Linked DNA regions of Homo sapiens. The protein of the gene in region 1 purifies or fractionates together with the protein of each later gene. This does not show direct contact. Each region holds a gene or a part of one and is shown on either strand. Other genes may lie near its edges.

What was found. The genes of interacting proteins can lie anywhere in the genome.
Region 2: the proteins of CIPC (region 1) and BMAL1 purify together in Homo sapiens (affinity purification with mass spectrometry; one large-scale study listed by BioGRID and IntAct). This does not show direct contact.

Annotation. Positions count from the first base shown.
Region 1 is NC_000014.9:77,104,758-77,108,257, reverse strand, and holds part of CIPC (CLOCK-interacting pacemaker), read right to left. Parts: intron 2,602-3,500; 5' UTR 2,550-2,601; coding exon 2,414-2,549; intron 1-2,413.
Region 2 is NC_000011.10:13,364,790-13,368,289, forward strand, and holds part of BMAL1 (basic helix-loop-helix ARNT-like protein 1), read left to right. Parts: intron 1-710; coding exon 711-803; intron 804-1,875; coding exon 1,876-1,993; intron 1,994-2,276; coding exon of another isoform or gene 2,277-2,389; intron 2,390-3,500. UniProt on the Homo sapiens protein: Transcriptional activator which forms a core component of the circadian clock.

The DNA.
Region 1 (3,500 bases):
GTACTTTAATGGTAAAGAAATCTGTACACACTATCTTAGCCAAGTGATCAACCAACCAGAGCATCACCAAGAGTAAGACTAACTTATGAGTCTCCAAATGTGTTGCAATGGGAAGGATACAACATCAACAACATAGTATTCTGGTCAAGATGCTAATCCTGACCCTAATAATGGGGACACTACCAGAAAATCCAGAGTGTGAGACATTCTACAAAGCAACAGGCCTGACTCATTCAAAGATGTCAATGTCATAAAGAAAGAAGAAAGAAAAAAAGGAAAGAAAAGATAGGGGAGTGGTTATAAACTAAACCAGACTAAAGGACAGGACAACTAAATGCAATGCTCAATCTTCAGTTGGATTCTGGATCCAAAACAGACAAAAAGACAAACAGCTATAAAGGACATTATTGGGACAATGGGGGAAAATCTGAATATGGAGTGTAGCTAATGATAAGTATCAGTGTTAAATTTCTTAGGTATGATAATGATATTATAACTACATAGAAGAATGTCCTTGTTTTTAGGAAATCTGTACTGAAGCTACATGGGGTAAAATGTCAAGTGTTTGCAATTTACTTTCAAATAATTCAGAGAGAGAGTGTGTGTGTGTGTGTGTGTGTGTGTGTGTGTAAAGAGAGCGAGAGAGAGAAAGCATATATGGCAAAAAGATAGACATATGGGGTATTCATTTGCTTTTGTATAGATTTGAAATTTTTTGAACTACAAATGTGGTAATTAAAATGGGAAAAATTGTCTTGATTTTGCAAATTTCATCCTACTCCAAGGTAACTGGAATAACTCAGGCAGTGAGGAAATCACTGGCACCTGGCCCAAGAGTGGCTCGAAGCATTCCAGTGGCATTCACTGGGGCTACTTTCTGGGGCATAATGAGTTTGATTATTTTAATACCACCTTATATCTGAGTAGTACAATATTCTTAAAACAACTGGCCTGACAAAGTTGAAGTTGTTAGAAGTGTCAAAATGTCAACAGTACTGGAAATAATAGATGGTAAGATTATGGATAATGTTTTTCTTCTTCATGCTTTCCTACCTGTCCAAGCTTTTACAATGAGCACGTATTCATGAAATGAAACATAAACAAAAAGCAAACGTGATATTAAAAGAAAAAAAGAGGCACTAGGCCTCCAGTGTTTCCCAAACCTGTCTGATCATACAACAGAAACACTTGTTTTTTAAAAGAACCCACATTCCAGGCCCTGTCCAGACCCTTGAAAGAGTCTCCAGGAGGGAGATCTGGTGATCAATATTTTTAACAAATGCCTCAGGTGAGCCTTATGATGAGGCAGGCTTAGGAAACAATGCTGAGAGAGAGAAGAAAAATCCAAAGGGAAGGTTGGCCCGCCCTTCCCTGGACTGTCCTGGCCCTGGGCAGGGCAACTAATTCCTTTTAATCTAATCCCTTGGTTGGCGCTCTGTTCCTCTTTGAGCAACGGTCTATTTATAATTTGCCTTTTCAAGCAGCATGCCTACAGGGAGAAAATATGCCAATCTAAAGACAAGAGAGTTCTAGTTTTCCTAACAGCTGCATTTCTCACTATAAGTTAATAAATCAAAATTGATTGATTTGTCTTTGTGAGTCTGGATAATATAAATCTTCTCCTTGAGAGGGTTCTACTCTCAGGATGTTGACTTGACCAGAATCCCTCAGCATCACCCCTCTGCATCCCCGCGCCAAAAATCACACTAGCGCCATATTCAAGCCACTACCCTCAGAGCGGGAAATAAAAAAAGAGCCCCAGCACAAAATTGAATGATTCAATATATATGCAGCTAGCCCTTTTGGGTAAGGTTTAAGAAAAACTTGTAAGGAAAACTGTTCTATTTTCTTATCTCTAATAGATACTCAAGTTTAGAGCTAGGCCAGGTGGCTCACAGTCCAAATACAAAATGCATAGAGACTGGGGGGAGGGGTTGTTGGAGGCGTACATTTCTAAACACAGCGAAACTACTTTCTCAATGAAAAAGTTACCTTACAAATTATATACAGTATTACTTTTATTTAACTGGCAGTCTTCCAATTTGTTACATGGAAACTACATGCAGTAGCAATTTTTCCCCTACAATGTAATAATTCCTGTGAAAAAGGAAGTAAAACAACAGAATTATGAGTATTTAAATATTTTTTCCAGTGACCAATTGCAATAGTTGGAAGTGTAAGATTCAGAGTCTAAGTTGAAAAAAGATGTTAAATAATTCTTTCAGAACTAACCCTGTGGTGACTTTGATGGGTACCCTGACATATGGCATCAGAATTACCATTTTAAAGCAGGTAAGTATTTATCCTGTGTGTGAAAGCATCCCATCCTTATCACATAAATGAGTTTTGGGGAGGAAATTTTTCACGCAAAGCATTCACTCACAAAACAGAGGAAGGATAAGATATTTTTAACCTGAAAAGCCAGAGTCCTTGTCTGACTCAGCAGCAGCCATCCCAAGCTGACGAGCCACTTTCTTCATCTCTGTGCCTTTGCCTACTTTGGCAGAGAGTCTTCTGGGGCTCTCTCTGGATGGGTTTTTCCTCTCCATGGTTTATTCAGCTGGAGGCAGATTCATTGGTACTCTTTTCATCTGGACTGCCCTATGAAAAACAATTATATAAGAAGTCACTGCCTGGAGAGCTGAAACAGGTGATCCAAACAGTGAATAAAGTATGGGCAAAGAACACTGGCCTCACCCACTTCAGCTTTATTTTCTCAGAGGTTTCAACTGACAAAAGCTTCAAGTTTACTAAACAGAATGGTTTCCACCCATAAGGAGATTCACAGTCCTCTGGCTGCCCTCTAATTCCATTACAAATTCAAGGCACACAAACCACATTCAGCATTCGCTTTGTAAACTGCTAACAAAGGCACATTTGATTAGGCTTTTTCCAATGGGTAACGAAATGAACTCACCAGAGGGGAGAGGGGACAGGGGAGTGAAGAGAAGGGAAAAGGAAGACAGGAGAAGAGAGAGGGCAGAAGGAGGGGGAGAGGGGAAAGGGGAGAGGAGAAAAGAGACACCGCAAGGCTTGCTTTCCTCGTGTACATTTGCAGGCTCATGACCTATTGCCACCTCCCACAGTGTTGTGTTTCTCAAATTAACCTCTAAATCCTTTGGCTGAGGTATTGAACAGAGAGCAAAAACAACTCCCTATACATGCATGCTACTTTTAGGCTTAAAAAACACTTTTATGGGCAAATAAAATCATATATAATAAAGAGCTTATAATATGCGTTGCTATTAGTGTTATCTCACTTGAGCCTCACAATGTCATCTTCAGTTGCTATCTCACTTTACAGGGGAGGAAACTGAGGCTCAGATAAGTTACATTCAATCATTTAAAAATATTTATCAAATGCCATTGTAAATCAGGCATTGTGCAAGGACTGGGGATATAGAATGAACAGAATAGGCATCTGTCGCTTCCTTCTTGTAGCTTATGATCTAGAGAGAGACAGTCATTAATCAAGTAATCACTCAACTAGCGACCATTTT
Region 2 (3,500 bases), on another chromosome or scaffold:
AAGAAGGGGTAAGAAGAATCTAAGCGGGGAGTTTTGCTTTTCTGAATGCAAATAGTCCGGCCCTGGATGGAGGGATAACATTTGAGAGTAGTAGTTCTCAGCCCTATGTACATTAGAATCACATTAACGTGGAAGTGGGATGGGTTTAAAAATACCCCAGTGATCAGCCCCATGCCAGACCATCAGCATAAAAACAAAAACAAAAAACACTGCTCCGAATGTTGAGAACCACTGTTTTAGAGAGCTCCCTGTACGTGGAGGTTTTCAAGTTGAAGGCAGATGATGGCTGAGATGTTGGAGAGGGGATTCTTGAAGAGTCCTTCCAAATCTCAGATTCTCTGACTCTCCATAGAGTTGTTATTATTAGAGCAATGAAATATGATTCTCTGGACCATGATACCTTCAAAAGAACACGTGCAAGCTGAATTCTGCTTTGAAATATAACTTACTTTAATTGGACTTTCTTCCTATAATAATTAGATGATATGCAGAAACACACACACACACACACACACACACACACACACACACAATCTTACAGTTCTTCAGAGACGTTTGTTTTCAGCATCCTGCACTCAGGATATCACTGAAACTGTTAGTGTTCCTGTGCTTTGGATGCTTAGAAAGCACATCCTCTATTTGTTATCAGGGTGATTACAAATTATGTTTCCTACAGTATGAGAAATTGATTATCCATTTCTCCTGATTAGGCAGCAGATGGATTTTTGTTTGTCGTAGGATGTGACCGAGGGAAGATACTCTTTGTCTCAGAGTCTGTCTTCAAGATCCTCAACTACAGCCAGGTATTGTTCATGCTCCTGTTGATGGTGGGCAGCCTCACAGCAGTCAGAAGTGTCACTCAATTTTGTCAGAATAATTATAGTATACAAGTCACATGTGAACTTCTTCCAGAAAATTCTTAACTTCTTAACAGATAAATTAATTTAGACTTAGAACAATCTTGTAATATGTTCCGTATTCCCCCCATTGAAAGATCTGACTCTGATCTGATCGATAGCATTATGGCTTTCTTCTATTGCTGCAAAATAAATATCCCACAATATGTGGCAAGGACAGAGGGTAAGAGGCTATCTGACAAGGGAGAAAGGTAGGCAGGTTAACACAATACCAGAGAATACGTCACTTGGAAATCCACTCCATACTGTGTTTGCAGTGCTGTGTCACTTCTTAGCTCTATTGAACCTCAGTTTACTCTAAAAATTAATGATAACTTATAGGATCAAATAAGAGTAACATTTATAAACGCTTCTAGAACAGAACTTTTCACCTATTATGTCCCCCAGAGTTTTTATTCATTTATTCATTCACTCACACACTGGTATTTGCATGGAAGCTTGGTAGGCAGAAGACTTGAAGAATCAAAATGACATTTATGTAAATTAGAATTAATGTAAATTTAATTTTTCCAAAGATTTCTGCTCTTTTTAGTCTCAGAGCAAAGTTATGGAGGAAGTTGCTGTTATCTCTGTTAATAGACAAGGTGACTGAAGCATATGATATGCGTGACTTGCTTGAGAACAGAGAGGCTGAACAGCAGAGCTGGAATCAGAGCCCACCCCTATCTTCTGCCTTCTGAGGTCTTACAGGGGAATTCCAAGATTGTTGCCTTAGAAGAGCATAAACTGTTTATATAATTGAGGGTTTTCCCGTCATGTTATCAAAACCAACCTCCAGATGCCTCCTTCCTGGTGTCAGGCAAAGTGGTTGGACATATGTACAGGTTCACATAGGAAAAGTTTGAGGTCTCATGCACAAAAACACAAAGGCAACATGCAGACTGTGCATGCTTACTTGTTGCATAATTGATTTTCTGCATGCAATTGACTTGTCATGTTTAACATTTCATCTCCCCAGAATGATCTGATTGGTCAGAGTTTGTTTGACTACCTGCATCCTAAAGATATTGCCAAAGTCAAGGAGCAGCTCTCCTCCTCTGACACCGCACCCCGGGAGCGGCTCATAGATGCAAAAAGTGAGTACCAGAGAGGCCTCGCATTTCCTCAGCAGCCCACTCACAGGCAGCCAACCCTGAGTGAGCAGAGGGCGGGTGTGTGTGATGGGCTCAGCCTTTCCAGTCCTACTTCTCTGTCCTCTTTCTGGGGCACCAGAGCTATCTTTGGCTAAATGGAATTATTTATGTTCTTTGGTCTTTTACATAAAAAGAAGAAAAAAATCTCAATGTCCAAATTTATTGAAAAGAAGAGCTATTTAGACTGGATTCTTTCTGATTTTTAGACTTTTCTTTTTTCTTTCAGAATCTAGAAAATCCCAGTTGTATGCTCCTGAGTTTAAAGGGCTAAGTTTGATTTGTTCTCCCAGAACAAATGGGCTCTATTTACCTGAATTGCACACAGGCAGCCTCATAAAAGTAAGAAAACGTCAACTATAAATATGGTGTTTCTTCAACCAAAGTGTTCCTCCTTAGGTTGGCTCCCCCACCTGGCTTTCTTCTTTTGCAGTAGTGGAACCACCATCCACATCGCTCCCTCTGCCCCCAGCTTCCTGCTACTGCACACACTTCTGTGCAAGGCCCCAGTAGCTGTCATCTACTTTAGTCCTGTGGGAGGCTGTACACTCCTACAGTTAAGAATGAGAGAATGAGGACTCTGGCTGGGCGCAGTGGCTCACATCTGTAATCCCAGCACTTCGGGAGGCTGAGGCAGGTGGATCTCTTGAGGTCAGGGGTTTGCAACCAACCTGGCCAACATGGCAAAACCCCGTCTCTACTAATAATACAAAAATTAGACAGGTGTGGTGGTGCGTGCCTGTAATCCAAGCTACTTGGGAGGCTGAGGCAGGAGAGTTTCTTGAATCCAGGAGGTGGGGGTTGCAGTAAGCTGAGATTGTACCACTGACTGCACTCCAGCCTGGGTAACAGAGCAAGACTCTGTCTCAGAAAAAAAAAAAAAAAAAAAAAGAATGAGAACACAAGGGAGATTACTGGGCTCATTCCGGCTCCACCATTCACTAGCTGTGTGACCTTGAGCAAGTTACTTAACCTCTCTCTGTCTCAGTTTTCTCATTTATGGAAGAGTACCTATTTCTTTGGGTTGTTGTGAGGATTGAAAGTGTTAATGTATATAAAGCAGGCAGAACAGTTCCTAGCACATAGTAAGAACAGTATCAGTGTGGCCTAATGTCTTGCTCCCAAGCTGTCCACGTTAATCCCTGGAAAAAAATACCACCAGATAATCTCCTTCAAGTCATCTCTTTCATTACAGCACACCGCTTGTTCCTAAAAGTAAAATGCAGACTTTGGTATCTGTTGTTCTTTATAGTCTAGCCTTGGCTTTTTTAAGTGACCTTAGGAGAAAAATATGAATGGCATTTGGGCCTTGCCTTTGAGGCTCTTAGCATATAGTCAGAGAAATGAGACAGACAGCACCCTGCATAGTAATAGGTACAGCCATAGAAATAGTGCCAGGCATAGAGAACGGATGATTAATTCTCATGTGGGCGCAAGGACAGGCATCACTGAG